Homo sapiens: one gene and its partners. The protein of the gene in region 3 purifies or fractionates together with the protein of the main gene of each other region. This does not show direct contact. Each region holds a gene or a part of one and is shown on either strand. Other genes may lie near its edges.

What was found. Proteins that work in one complex are often made in the same cells at the same time.
Region 1: the proteins of ZNF704 (region 3) and SAP30L purify together in Homo sapiens (co-immunoprecipitation; 3 studies listed by BioGRID and IntAct, with this or other methods). This does not show direct contact.
Region 2: the proteins of ZNF704 (region 3) and ARID4B purify together in Homo sapiens (co-immunoprecipitation; 3 studies listed by BioGRID and IntAct, with this or other methods). This does not show direct contact.
Region 4: the proteins of ZNF704 (region 3) and DCP1B purify together in Homo sapiens (affinity purification with mass spectrometry; 2 studies listed by BioGRID and IntAct, with this or other methods). This does not show direct contact.

The regions. Positions count from the first base shown.
Region 1 is NC_000005.10:154,448,997-154,452,496, reverse strand, and holds part of SAP30L (histone deacetylase complex subunit SAP30L), read right to left. Parts: intron 1,407-3,500; coding exon 1,284-1,406; intron 42-1,283; coding exon of another isoform or gene 24-41; exon of another isoform or gene 1-23.
Region 2 is NC_000001.11:235,220,180-235,223,679, forward strand, and holds part of ARID4B (AT-rich interactive domain-containing protein 4B), read right to left. Parts: intron 3,082-3,500; coding exon 2,987-3,081; intron 1,484-2,986; coding exon 1,386-1,483; intron 367-1,385; coding exon 123-366; intron 1-122. UniProt on the Homo sapiens protein: Acts as a transcriptional repressor. May function in the assembly and/or enzymatic activity of the Sin3A corepressor complex or in mediating interactions between the complex and other regulatory complexes.
Region 3 is NC_000008.11:80,686,282-80,689,781, forward strand, and holds part of ZNF704 (zinc finger protein 704), read right to left. Parts: intron 1,178-3,500; coding exon 945-1,177; intron 1-944.
Region 4 is NC_000012.12:1,945,553-1,949,005, reverse strand, and holds the end of DCP1B (mRNA-decapping enzyme 1B), read left to right. Parts: intron 1-2,719; coding exon 2,720-2,800; 3' UTR 2,801-2,953; downstream 2,954-3,453. UniProt on the Homo sapiens protein: May play a role in the degradation of mRNAs, both in normal mRNA turnover and in nonsense-mediated mRNA decay. May remove the 7-methyl guanine cap structure from mRNA molecules, yielding a 5'-phosphorylated mRNA fragment and 7m-GDP.

The sequences.
Region 1 (3,500 bases), on a different chromosome or scaffold from region 3:
CCTCTAAAAGAGCTGTTCTTGCTTCAGGCAGGTGGAGAGCACTTAAAAACAAAATGAATGATCAATATGAGGGGCCAAAGTCCTTCATTCTTTTTCAAAACATTCCTCAAAACCTTTTTTTTTTTTTTTTTGGTGAAAACCACTTAGAAATCGAATACGTCCATTTCTTTGTAAAATAACAATAACGTTAAAGGCAAAAGCAAGATTCTGTAAACCAACATTGGAAAAGGGGACACAGGGAGGGGCAGAGGGAAAGGGCCAGATTTTCAACGGTTTCCTCCACATCTGCAGACAAAGGCCCGCCTACTCTTTCTATTCCTACACAGTCATTTTCACTCTGAGTGCTAACAGGCGGTTGCCTTATGAAATATTCATGTGTCAAATATTCAATGTACACTATAAACGGTTCTTCTCTTGCTGAGTCTTGAGTGAAAACAATTTAGTAGAAAGAAAATCCAATATTCCTTCCTGAAGCCTCACTTAATAGACACGGGCACCTGAAGGGAAGGCAGCCTTCCAGTTTGAGAAGCCTAGGTCTCATGGTCTAGCGCAGTGGTTCTCAACACAGGACGATTTTGTCTTGTAAAGGAGGTGTGGCAATGTCTGGAGACACGTTTTGATTGTCATGACTCAGGGTGGTGATGGGTAGAATCTCACGAGGGGATGCTGCTGAGGCATGCTGTTAAATATCCTACAATGCAGAGGACAGTCCCCACAACAAAAATTAGCTGACCCCAAATGTCAACAGTGCTAGAGTTGAGAAAACCGGGTCCAGTTTAGTCAACTTTGAAATGGATCCTTGGGAACAGCCTGGACTAGATGTCAAGAAATCAGTGAGAGAAAATCAGAGCTGGTATGAACTGATGACTTACACCTTCATTTTTTGGGGAAAAGACTTCTCCCAAACCATTATACACTCTCTAAAGGCATAAACAAGGTTTAAAAAAAAGTGACACTGTGGTTGTATTTACGCATTCGTCAGGGGCGTCTTGCAGAAAAGCAGTGTGGTCTACTGGAAAGGGCCCTAGACTAGAGCCTCCAAACTATATACATGACCTCGGCTCTCTGTGCCTGTCTGTAAAATGATGGGGCAGTCTGACCAGTGGGTGTCCAAGCTTTTAGCTCTCAGATTCCATATTACTATAATTCACTTTTCAAATAATCCACAGCAAAACAAAAGGACTAAAATTACTTCTTAACACAAAAAGCAGACCAGGCCAGAGGTGAGAATCAGATTAGAATCCATTCTTCCAGCTTCCGCAACTGGTTTCTTTGACCTTTACCTCAGGAATGTCAGTGTCGTGCTCGGGAGAATCTCCGCCATCGTCACTTGTCTTCCTCTTCCTTTTATTTCGGACACTCTGGATGAAATTTTTGTGAAAATCACAGATATATAGGTGCCTTACCTGATGGAGACAAAAATCAAAGTCAGAGTTGGCCAATTCCTTGGAGACAGCAATAGGTATCTGTCGAATTGCGGGGCTTCCTTCCATTGCAGGGCATTGGAGAGATAGATGGAAGACAAGATGTAGGCCATCATTCCCAGAAGCTCACTACTGAGTTGCAGAACACAAAGAGAATGCTAACATCACACTTGGCAGCGTATCATACACCAAACTTCCAGTGAATGGTGAAGACAGTAAATGGTACAGATTCAGCAAAGGAAGAGATCCCTGCAACAGAGATGCTCAGGGTGAAGGGCCCTGACTAAAAGGGAGGACTTTAGGCAGACAGGAAGCATTCCAGATGGGTAGGAGTGCCAAGACTTTAGAGTTTCCAATGGAGGATGACAGAAAGAGTGAGGAGGCCCAGGGTACAGTGTCAGTTGGGTGATGATGGCTGCCCATGTAGGAGCATAATGAAAAAGTGAGGCATCAGGGGGGTGGGCATGAGAACAGCTTAGACTTTCCTTCCGACAAGACAGAGTCCCTCAAGGAAGCAGGAAGTGATGTGACATTTTTAGAAGACCTGTAGGAGTCATAAACTTATAGTCGACTGGAATGTACTGTCCTGGGGAGGAGGAAAGCAGGACACAAGGGACTGTTGCAACGGTATTTGGGACACTCTATTTTTACAATTACAATAGCTACTATTGTAGGATAATAACTCTTTGAAAAACTTTGTTTCTATGTGTCAATTTATAATTCTTGCATTATCTCACATCTGATCCACAAAGAAAAGTGGAAAAAGATGTGGAAGTTCTTACAAGGTAGAACCACATACAAGAAGGTGGATACTACAGATTTTCTAATACAGGCTGGAGGCACACTGGTAAGTGAAGGTGGCAGCAACAGCTAAGACATGAAGAATCCTCCAAGGCTGGCTGGAGGAACCACTGAAAAACTTTACAGAAACTGAATGCCCAGCAAATGACTTGGGGTTGTTGATACTGAAACAGCTGTTGCACAAATGTTCTGCAGAGACTTCTGAATTTGAGTTTATTCCTTAAATCCTTAAAGATAAAAGTAAGCTGGCAGGAAATCCGCATCAATTAATTCAGACCTTTTCATGGAGAAAATAATGAAAACTGTTTATTTATTTATTCAGATGAATGATCACTTTCATGTGGCTGGATTAGTGAGTCATAAGTACTTTTAAGTTTATACTGTGATGGTGTCTTGCAGACAGGAGGTACTCGAAAAATGTTGATGTACCAATATAGGAAGTCTCCTATATCTAAAAGTGGCTTAAGGCTAATGAAAGCCACCACTTAACATGGTTACAAACTGGGATAGCTTTGTCAGATTCAACTCTGTCAAAGGACTTTCAAACACAGCACATGCCACTGTCCCAAAGAATCCCACCTAGCTGATGTATATACTACTGGACATGCTTTTCTCCAGGAAGAAAGCACAACAAAGCACACTCTGCATCCCTGAGAGGAAGCTAGCCCTCCATGTTAGCTAGACTGGCGAGTCCACTCAGATCAACTGCTCCTCAAGTTCACAGTAACAAACTTCATAGGAGAACAGGGAGAATAGGTGGCTTCCTAAAGCTTTGGCTGGGAGATTTCAGATCAGGACAATAGAATAACGGAATCCTAGCTGTAAGAGAACTTAGCAATCACTAGTGCAATCCCATTGACCCCAATCCGTTTTCTAAATGGGTAAAATGAAGCCATCCAGAGTGAGGAAATGACCTGGCCAAGGTCACCCAGGCCTTCTGCCCCCCCAGTACATGTCTTTTCCTACTCCAGCATTTTCCTTTATACTATTCTCAACTTCCACTTTTCTCCAGGAAAAAAAAAGCAGAAATATGTCAACTGGAGGTATATTAGTATTTTAACAGATCACAGAACACTGCCAAAGTCTATATAAAATGAGTTAAACAGCCTGAATTGAATTTCTGGTGTTGTTATTTAAAAAGGTTCTCTGCTAGACTCTCTTACAAGATAAATAATCATTTTCTCCTTAACCATTTTCAAGTACATACTGGTTTTCAGAAATTTCAGAGCTCAGTGGCCTTTGGGAGTGGGGTTGGGGCAGGAGGGTGGTAGCAAA
Region 2 (3,500 bases), on a different chromosome or scaffold from region 3:
AATGAAGAAAATAAACAAATAATAAAGAATAATATTATACAATATATTGATTTTGGAACTTTATAGAGGATATGGAAAATATACCAAAGAAAGCAAAAGACAATTAACAATATCTGATTTACCAGAGAGGGCTTAATATTTTCTTTTCTTTCAATTTCATCCTCAATAGGCTTTTCTTCTCTTGGTATTATATTCCTCTCCTCCTCCATCTTTATTTCTTTGATCTCTGTTTCATTTTCCTCCTTAACTTTTATTTCTTTTACATTTTCACACTCCTTACATTGCTTGTTAACAACTTTCTCTGGCAATGCCATCTGAAATTCAATGTTGGCTGATCTACAGTACTCCTCAAAACCATATAAGTATCTGGAAACATGAAGAGAAATTACATTTGGTGAAAACATTTCAAAATATAACTATAGAGTTATTTTTAATGTGTATTCATTTCTTTTGTCTAAACTCTCAGATATTGAGCCATATTAACATTCTAATTTATTCTAGTTCTTTCTAATCTTTTCAATGCAAAAAAAAAATTTTGTCAAAAAATTCATTTAAAACACTGTGCTCAGAGTCATAACAATAACAGCTATTAAAAGTATTAGTAATAGCATCTATTTTTTGCACATTTCTTATGTGTGAGGCTGGACTCCTTAGTAAATCTCATTTAGTCACTACAGTAACCCTGGGGCACACAGCAGCATCCTTTTTTTGTTTTTTTTTGTTTTTTTTTGTTTTTTTGAGACAGCCTTACTCTGTTGCCCAGGCTGAAGTGCAGTGGCGCAATCTCAGCTCACTATAACCTCCGCCTCCTGGGTTCAAGCAATTCTCCTGCCTCAGCCTCCTGAGTAGCTGGGACTACAGGCGTTAGCCACTATGCTCAGGTAATTTTTGTATTTTTAGTGGAGACAAGGTTTCGCCATGCTGGCCAGGCTGGTCTTGAACTCCTGACCTCAAGTGATCTGCCCGCCTCGGCCTCCCAAAGTGCTGAAGTTACAGGCATGAGCCACCGTGCCTGGCCAAGCATTCCATTTTACAAATGAAGAAACTGAGGCTTAGGAGAATAAATAACTGGCCCTAGGGCATAAACAGTTAATAATTGGCAGAACTAGGATTCAAATGTGGATTTACTTGACTTCAGAATATTAGCTTTTTAACCTCTATGAAGTACTTGACAAATGTACTTAGCCACAAAAACTTTCTTCACAGAATTTCTCATAGATCTAGTATCATAGAATACACTTTAGAAAATACTATCATAGAATGACTACTCTAGTAAAATGTTCTGATTTCTTTAAAGAAATAATTAACCTCAGTTATAAGGTAAATTTCATCCTGCTTTCTAGGTAAAAATACTGAAGATAATCATATCAATTATACTAACTTACTTTTTATAAGCACATTTAACATTGTATCCTGCAGCTGAATTTAAGACAGGGATTCCAAGATCTTGGTAGACTTGTTTCCAAACAGCTCCACTTTCAATCTAATGGACAAAGTGAAACAAAAACTCTCAAATTAAAAGGTGTTAATATAATAACATTTTGATAGACACAGTATATATGAGTATATTTTTATATTTATTGGTCCTAGACTCAAAAGAATTTTTAAAAACTTGATAAATTCTAAATTTGGTTTAAAAATAAAGGTTTTAGTACTCTAACAAATATCAGAAAATTATAAATGTTGAAATATTAAGTCATTTGACTATTTTTTTTTTTTTTTTTTTTTTTTTTTTTTTTTTGGAGACAGGATCTTATTCTATTGCCTAGGCTAAAGTGCAGCAACAGTGGCACAAACACAGCTCACTGCAGCCCTGAACTTCCGGGCTCAAGGGATCTTCCTGACTCAACAACCCAAGTAGCTGGGACTATAGATGCACACCACCACACCTGGCTAATTAAAAAATTTTTTTTGTGGAGATGGAGTCTCACCATGTTGCCCAGGCGGGTCTCAAAGTCCTGGGCTCCAGCAATCCCCTGGCCTTAGCCTCCCAAAGTGCTGAGATTACAGGCATGAGTCACCATAACTGGCCCCATTTGACTTTTAAATAAACCCAGTTATGGAAAATGGAAAAATATTCAGGCTCTTAAATCAAAATTTTTAACAAAGAAATGGAGACAAACATTTTTAAAGGATTTATTATTTCGCATAAAATATACAGGCTAATAAATGCAGTTCTGCAGAAATTTGTAAAGTATTTTATTCCATAGAATATTCTCAATTGGATAAGTATCGTACATCACGTCAACCTTAAAATAATTTCTTCAGATCAGTTCAACAAACATTTCCTGCTTTAATCCCTTTATATTCTGAAAGGGATTAAGAATATACAGAATATTAAGACAGATCCCTGCTCTTAAGGAGCATACTGTCTAATGAAAAAGAGACACAGGAAGGATTTCCACCAATATGGCTGTGCTGTGACTCAGATAAAAAAAGAAGGTTTATGAAAGATTGACCAATTTAACAGTAATCAGAAAGCTGATATGAAAAAAAATCTTTTTTTTTTTTTTTTTGAGACAGAGTCTCATTCTGTCACGCAGGCTGGAATGCAGTCCAGCGGTGCAATCTTGGTTCACTGTAATCTCTGTCTCCTGGGTTCAAGCGATTCTCGTGCCTCAGCCTGCCATGTAGCTGGGATTACAAGCGTGCGTCACCACGTCTGGCTGATTTTTGTATTCTTTGTAGAGATGGGGTTTTGCTATGTTGGCCAGGCTGTTCTTGAACTCCTGGCCTAAAGTGATCTACCCGCCTCAGCCTCCCAAAGTGTTGGGGTTGCAGGCATGAGCCACCATGCCTGGCCTAAAAAATCTTTAAAATTTAAATTTTGTCTGAGGAGGCTAGCTGTACTTTCCACTTTATCTTCTTCTTAGGTTTTTACTGAAAAACTTTGTTTTGTTGTTTAGAAAAACAATTTCAGAGATGGCAGATACCTGAGAAAACATGTTACATGAAAAAGATGTTTCAGTTTGACTACAACACTCACATTATCAAATCCTCCAAGTTTGTGTACAAGTCTGAATAACTTAAAGAGATTCAAATTTCGATATCCAAGTACAGGTCGTTTGTTAATAGGTGTACCTGTTACAGAAAACACAAACTATATTAGATCCACACTACATTTTTAATTTAAAATTTCAAAAGATTCAAATAATACAAGTATTTATAGTATTTTATATATATATACACGTATATATATATATACACGTATATATATGTGTGTGTATATATACATATATATGTATATATATATATGAGAAATTATCTTGTTAATCAAAGACATGGTATCTACACATAAATAAGCCCATGGCCACTTTAAAATTTTTTAAATTTTAAAAACCATAACCAGATTCTTGAAACCTTTTATTTTCATTCTACTTTCTTCCCTCTGCTGAGGGAAGAAATACTAGATAACTGCTTCCCAATAAGAGTTACTTTTATGGCATTTTCTTTGTATTTTACCAATTTACTACTACTCTAAATAATGATTCTATAGTAAA
Region 3 (3,500 bases):
TGCAAAACTTACCATATAGGACTGCTGGGAGGATTAAACAAATGTGTAATCAATTAATTTGCTAAATCAATTAATTAGATGTCTTTTTTTTCTTCTACTCCTTTTTGTTTTGTTTAAAGCAGCAGGGTCTCACTCTGTTGCCCAGACTGGAGTGCAGTGGCCAGATCATAGCTCACTGCAGTCTTGAACTCTTGGACTAAAGCGATCCTCCCACCTCAGCCTCCTGAGTAGATGAGACTACAGGTGCATGCCACTACACTGAGCTAATTTTTTTTTTATTTAATTTTTTTTTGTAGAGACAGGGTCTTGCTATGTTGCACAGGCTGGTCTCCAACTCCTGGTCTCAAGCAATCTTCCTGCCTCTGTCTCCCAAAGCAGTGGGACTACAGGTGTGAGCCACTGTGCCTGGCCCTTTTTCACTTTTTATTTAGTTAATATATAATCTCTAGGATGTAAGAATGGAAGTTTGTTTATATCTCAGCTTTTATGTATATTTCACAGATGACTGCATAAAAATGAGATACAAAATATTCTTCCCAATAACCCTTCAGGGCTGATTGAGAAAAGAGAAAAATATATTAATTATATTTTACATATGAAAAAAATAAGTCCCACGAAGAGAGCGAGTTCATACCGAAGCAAGCCTGAGGTCCAATTTTCTAACTTACAAATACTGGTAAGTCCCAGGTCAGCAATTTATAACCAGAGGATGGATGGGATACGTGTGTATATACCTTCAGGAAACTTACCAGTATTTGTCATTTTTAAATTATCACCATAACAATTTCTATTCAAACTTCAAGAACATTAAAGAGGAACGTAAGCTGCTTCTTTCCACAGAAAGGGGGTGTAGGTCCAAGGTTAAGCTCACACCGGCCCTTCAGAGGGGACAGAAAGCACCTTCAGGAAACTGAATGCAGAAGACCGCGTGGCTGACCACCAACCTTTCTTTTCCTGGGAATGGGCTCGTCGAAGAGCAGGTTGCTGGCCTCCGCCTCGTCGATGCCGTCGTCTGGCTGCGCGGGGCTGCGGAAGGGCTTGAAGCTGTCAGCCGAGAGCGGCGGCGACGGCGTGGACGGGTTGGACTGGTCGCTGGGGGCGCTCCAGCTCCAGTAGCCGCTGCTGCTGGTGCTGGAAGGCACGCAGCCGCCCTCCTTCCAGGATCCGCTGAGGCTCTCTGCATGCACACAAACACAGTCAGTGCCAGGACCCCTGCGTGCCCGGGCATGGTTCAGTGGGGAAATGGGAGCCTTGGTTCTACACCAGTGAAACCACCCCAGCCCTCTCAATCATCTGCAACAGCTGGGTATGTAAGTTTTTGTTCTATTTATACGCCCCCTCCCAAAAGCCACATTGTAGTTTATAAACATTTAATTATTTTAACCTCATGATAATAGGTTTTTCTAAGAGTTTTCTGATGTGTTTTTGTATTGTGCAACACAAATTCCTTGGGATCATAGTGGGGATTATATGAAAAAAAAGATTTTCTTGTTCACTAAGTTTGGGGAGCTCTGGGTTTATCGACTACAGTATTTCTAAGAAAGAAATATCATTTGCAGTATTCTCCTGAATGGTTTGGTCACAGAGTTCCCTCTCACCCCAACCCCTCCGATTTCAACATTTTTTTAAAAAGGGATTTCTTAGCTGAGGGCAGTGGCTCACTTCTCTTATCCTAGCATTTTGAGAGGCTGAGGTAGGAGGATCGCTTGAGGCCAGGAATTCGAGGCCAGCCTGGGTTACATAGTGAGACCCTGTCTGTACAGAAAAAATGAAATGATTAGCCCGGCGTGGTGGCATGCACCTATAGTCCCAGCTACTCTGGAGGCTGAGGAGGGAGGATTACTTGAGCCCAGGGGTTTGAGGCTGCAGTGAGCTATGACTGGGTCACTGCACTCTAGCCTGGGTGAAAGAGCGAGATCCTGTTTCAGAAAAAAAGTTGGGGGGTGGGGGGTTCTTATAGGACTGTTATTCTTAGAATACATTTATAGGAAGTTAGTCTAACACTTAAGAATCTAAGAGAAATAATTTCTGGATAGTTATCTAAAGCCCCTTTCCATTCTGCTTATTACAACAAATAGTAATGCCTTACATTTTGTGAGTGTTTTACATTTTACAAAGCTTATTCGCACAGTCTCAAGCATTCTCACAACATCTGTCCTTCAGAATAAGGATTATTATCCCAGTTTTATAGATGAGGACCCTGAGGCAGCAGGAAGCAAAGTGACTTGCTACATGACTGGTAAGTATCCCTCATGGGCCCAGGCCACCAGGAAGAGGTTGGACCTATTTCTTCAGTGCATGCAGTCCCTGGGCTGTAAACAACCTCCATTCTCTCTGGCAAAGCTGGGATAGGATAAGAATTTATTGGCAATAATTACTCTAAGATTGCTATTGGCTATTACCTTCCCATTTGTGGTGGAAAGCATTATGAAATGTTTGCTAATGTGGAGAGATTTCTGCCCAGTTAGAATGTCTTCTGCCAGCCTGGCCTATATGGCGAAACCCCGTCTCTACTAAAAATACAAAAATTAGCTGGACATGGTGGTGCGTGCCTGTAATCCCAGCTACTGGGGGAGCTGAGGCAGGAGGATCACTTGAACTTGGGAGGCGGAGGTTGCAGTGAGCTGACATGGTGCCACTGCACTCCAGCCTGGGCAACAGAGTGAGACTCTGTCTCAAAAAAAAAAAAAAAAAAAAAAGTCTTCTGGGTGCTCTTTTAATCACTGAAGATTTGCTTTACCTTTCAAGATGCACGACCTTAATTAGCATTTATATAAATTTTACTTTTTTTTGGATAATTTCTCCTCCATATTTATGTGCATTTTGAATATATTAAAACTATGTTCTAACTACGAGGAAAAAACATCCCCAAATGCCTCATTAAAAAAATACTGTTAATGTCTGTGTAATTAGTAATGGAGTGAAGACAAATGGTAGATTATCATTCATGGGGAGATTTCATAACTACCTTTACCTATTTATGGATTTCTACCATATTCCTCAACTATGTCAAGCAAAAAGTTAAGTTAGAGGAGTGAAGCTTTAAGTTGAAATAGGAGAAACTACCCATCTCATTACAGCTAGGTTCTTTTAGAATGAAATGGTCATTTATGCAGTCTCATGCTTTGCCAGCATCAACAAAACCAAACTAGCATCTCACTCCCTGCAGTCTACACAGAGACTGATACGCTCACCAGACTAGATTTGCCTATTGTAAATAAGAAAGCTCCATTTAGTACAACAGGAGTTCAAGAAGAGCATAATATAAGGCTTGATGATTTTACTTAGTGTGAAAAACTCCCTTGGCAGGCCCGGGTGGCTTACAAATATACTGTAGTATGCATTTGTAAAATAAAATAAAGCTAATGGTGCTAGATGTATAATCATGTTAAGTATGAGGCACTGAATTTATTTTGAAAACCAACTATTATTACAGTGTGGTTACATGGCTTCATGTCAATGCCAAAAGTGAATTTGCTTACTGATTTGTGAATGACATT
Region 4 (3,453 bases), on a different chromosome or scaffold from region 3:
CAAGGCCTGCTTAGCTTCCGTGAGAATAACAGGTGTGTGTAACAACTCATCCTGACCCCAGCGGCTTCTGTGCTCAGTTAGCTAGGTGTTATTTATAATACCAAGTGTGGCTTGGGTGTCTCAGCTCTTCAAGGATTTTGTAATTTGAAGGACTGTCTAAGGCCTCCAAGCTGTCACCTGTCAGAAGAGAAGGAAGCATATGCTGGGGATTAAGCAGTCCCTGAGAGGACCCTGGGTGCTGGAGGCCCAGACAGAAAACTCACCATTGGGAGGTAGAGGTGGGAGCAGTCCTGGGCAAGGGGCCATCTGTTGAGTGGGGAAGAGGCCACTGAGCGAGTGGAAAACAGGGAGGGAAGCAAATAATGGCCATGGCTGCTACAGGTATGTTTTACAAGTCATTTTGAAACCTGCTCATTAGGACGGGATGGAGTGACAGGACTCCTTGTGAGCTGCTAGCCTCACTTGCCTATGAAATTATGAAATAATAATGAGTGCTATAATAGCTAACACTCCACAGAGCTGGCGCCGGGCCCTATTTTCAGTGCTACACACAAGCATATAACTCATTCACTCCTTACATAACAACCCTGTTATTTTTCCCATTCTACAGACAAGGAAACTGAGGCTGAGCAACTGGCCTGAGGCACGGAGCTCGTACATAAGCAGGGCTGGGATGCACCCAGCCTGGCCCCCGAGTGCCACTTCCCACGTACTCTCCCGTGGGCCACGTTCACCACATGAATGTTGGCAGGGACCAGCCTCGGGAGAACATTCAGCACAGGTGCCCTAGCAAAGCACACCCAAGAAATCAACGGCAGTCCTTGAAAAGTGGAACATTTGTAGCCAGACAGACTTCAGACACCCCAGTTAACATATTTAGGTGTCTTTTTGGTAGATAATCTTTAAGAAAACTTGTGTGGTACTTTGCTTAAGCATCAGACGGCCTTTAGAGAGCAGGCCAGCCCTTCTGCGGTTGTCTTATCCTACTTAAAAAGACAGTGGTCTCAATTAGTACAACATTTTTAAAAAGGTTCCATGTTGGCCGGGCACAGTGGCTGCTCACGCCTGTAATCCCAGCACTTTGGGAAGCCAAGGTGGGAGCATTGCTTGAGGCCAGGAGTTCAAGACCAGCCTGAGCAACATAGCGAGACTACAAAAGAAGGAAACATGTTTGAGGAAGAATGAAAGGAATGGGGCTAGAAGTCAGCAGAAGCATAATAACAATCAGAGATAAATAAGGTCAACAGCAAATGATTGAGCCCTACTAATTCATAAGTAAATATCAGGATAAAAATATTTGCCACCTTTTAAAGCTATTCATAGTAAGCTCAGGAGGAATTAGACATCTGTGAACCTCTTTACTTTGAGCCAGTTTCTTAAGTTGTAATTTAAAAGATCCATATGTTTTCTGGCTGATTCCCTTCACATTGTCTTGAGACTCTACTCCAGAGTAGTGGCTGAACATGGCGGATTAGAAATTACATTCCCCTGCCCTCCACTCTGCGTGCATTTTACTTCTTCCCGTGTACCACACCTCATATTCCCAGTCACTCAAGCAGTCTGTTTTTAGTTTCTGCCTCTTGTTAGGACACAATCTCATGCAGAGGAACTTTGTGACTACTTTGCAGGAAAAAGAGGGATAACATCACTCTCTTCATTGCATGAGAATGATGCTAAATCTGTGTGGGGTGCCAAGAGGGAATGAAGGGGGAATGTGAAGTGTGGGTGAATTACTAACACTGTAAAGAATTTGGGTGGGAGGGAGAAGTCTCTAGAATTAAAACATGAGGAAAACCACTGATTAGACCGTGATTCTCACTCCTTAGCCAGGCAAAAGAGCCCAGAGATTACCAGTCTTACTCCTGCCCACTTGCCAAGGCTAGAAACTTTCCATAACTTATGGGAAGACTTATATTAGCTTTGATGAAGTACTGATGAAGCATATTGCAAGTAAAATCCTAAGTAATGCCCAAAACAAAGCAGACACATTGTAGGTGACTTGGAGGGCCTTTAAGAACCACAGTGGCTCATGCCTGTAATCCAACACTTGGGGAGGCCAAAGTGGGAGGCTCACTTGAGCCCAGGAGTTCAAGACCACCCTGAGCAACATAGTGAGACCCTGTCTTAACAAAAAACTTAAAAGCCAGGCATGGTAGCACGCACCTGTAGCCCTAGCTACTCTGGAGGCTGAGGTGGGAGGATCGCTTGAACCCATGAGGTTGAGGCTGCAGTGAGCTATGATGGCACTACTGCACTTTAGCTTGGGTGACAGAGTGAGACCCAGTCTCAAAAACCCAAAAAACAAGAAACAAAAAAACACACCACAGCAATCTCTTAACCAAACTTTGAGACCACTGACTTGGATCATGTCCTCCTAACTCCTCTGTCTGCTGGGGCTTCATGTCTTTTCATGCAGCAGACCCAGGCTGTTCTTGAGTAAACCTTGCTCCATGCTGCCATGTGTCTGGGCTGCCCATCTGTGCTGCATGTAATGAGCTCTTGCTGCTGTGCATACTGACCATGGAAAACCATCAGCTCTGTCCGGCCTTGCCGTCAACCCCACTTAACATTCACACATGCAATTAAAAACCACCAGCTGTTAGACAGGGAGAGATGAGTGTCTCAGTATCCAAAGGCCAGTTCAGCTCTAAGACAGAGGAAGCCTTTTGTGTCTGCCAACCAAGTAACATTCTCTTGGGTCTTTCGATTTGTTTTCCAGAATGATGACAACTTCTTAAATATAATCTATGAAGCCTATCTCTTCAGCATGACTCAAGCAGCCATGAAAAAGACTATGTGACAGCAAGGCCTTTTAAAACTGATTTTCAAGGTCCTTCTAGAACTCCGGCACAAGGTTCTTTCATGTTGAGTGTTGTTTCCTTCAATGTTTCTGCCTTTTTTAAAAAAAAAGTATGTGTAATATGAAGTAAAATGTTTCAGACTTTTTTTTATACTCAAGTGTTTTTTAATTATTATTATACTTTAAGTTCTGGGGTACATGTACAGAACATGCAGGTTTGTTACATAGGTATACACATGCCATGGTGGTTTGCTGCACCCATCAACCCATCATCTACATTAGTATTTCTCCTAACGCGCTTCCTCCCCTAGTCCCCCACCCCGCGACAGACCCCAGTGTGTGATGTTCCCCTCCCTATGTCCGTGTGTTCTCATTGTTCAATTCCCACCTGTGAGTGAGAACATGTGGTGTTTGGTTTTCTGTTACTTTGTTAGTTTGCTGAGAATGATGGTTTCCAGCTTCATCCATGCCCCTGCAAAGGACAAGAACTCATTCTTTTTTATGGCTGCATAGTATTCCCTGGGTGTATATATGCCGTATTTTCTTTATCCAGTCTATCATTAATGGACATTTGGGTTGGTTCCAAGTCTTTGCTATTGTGAATAGTGCTGCAATAAACATACGTGTGCATGTGTCTTGATAGTGGAATGATA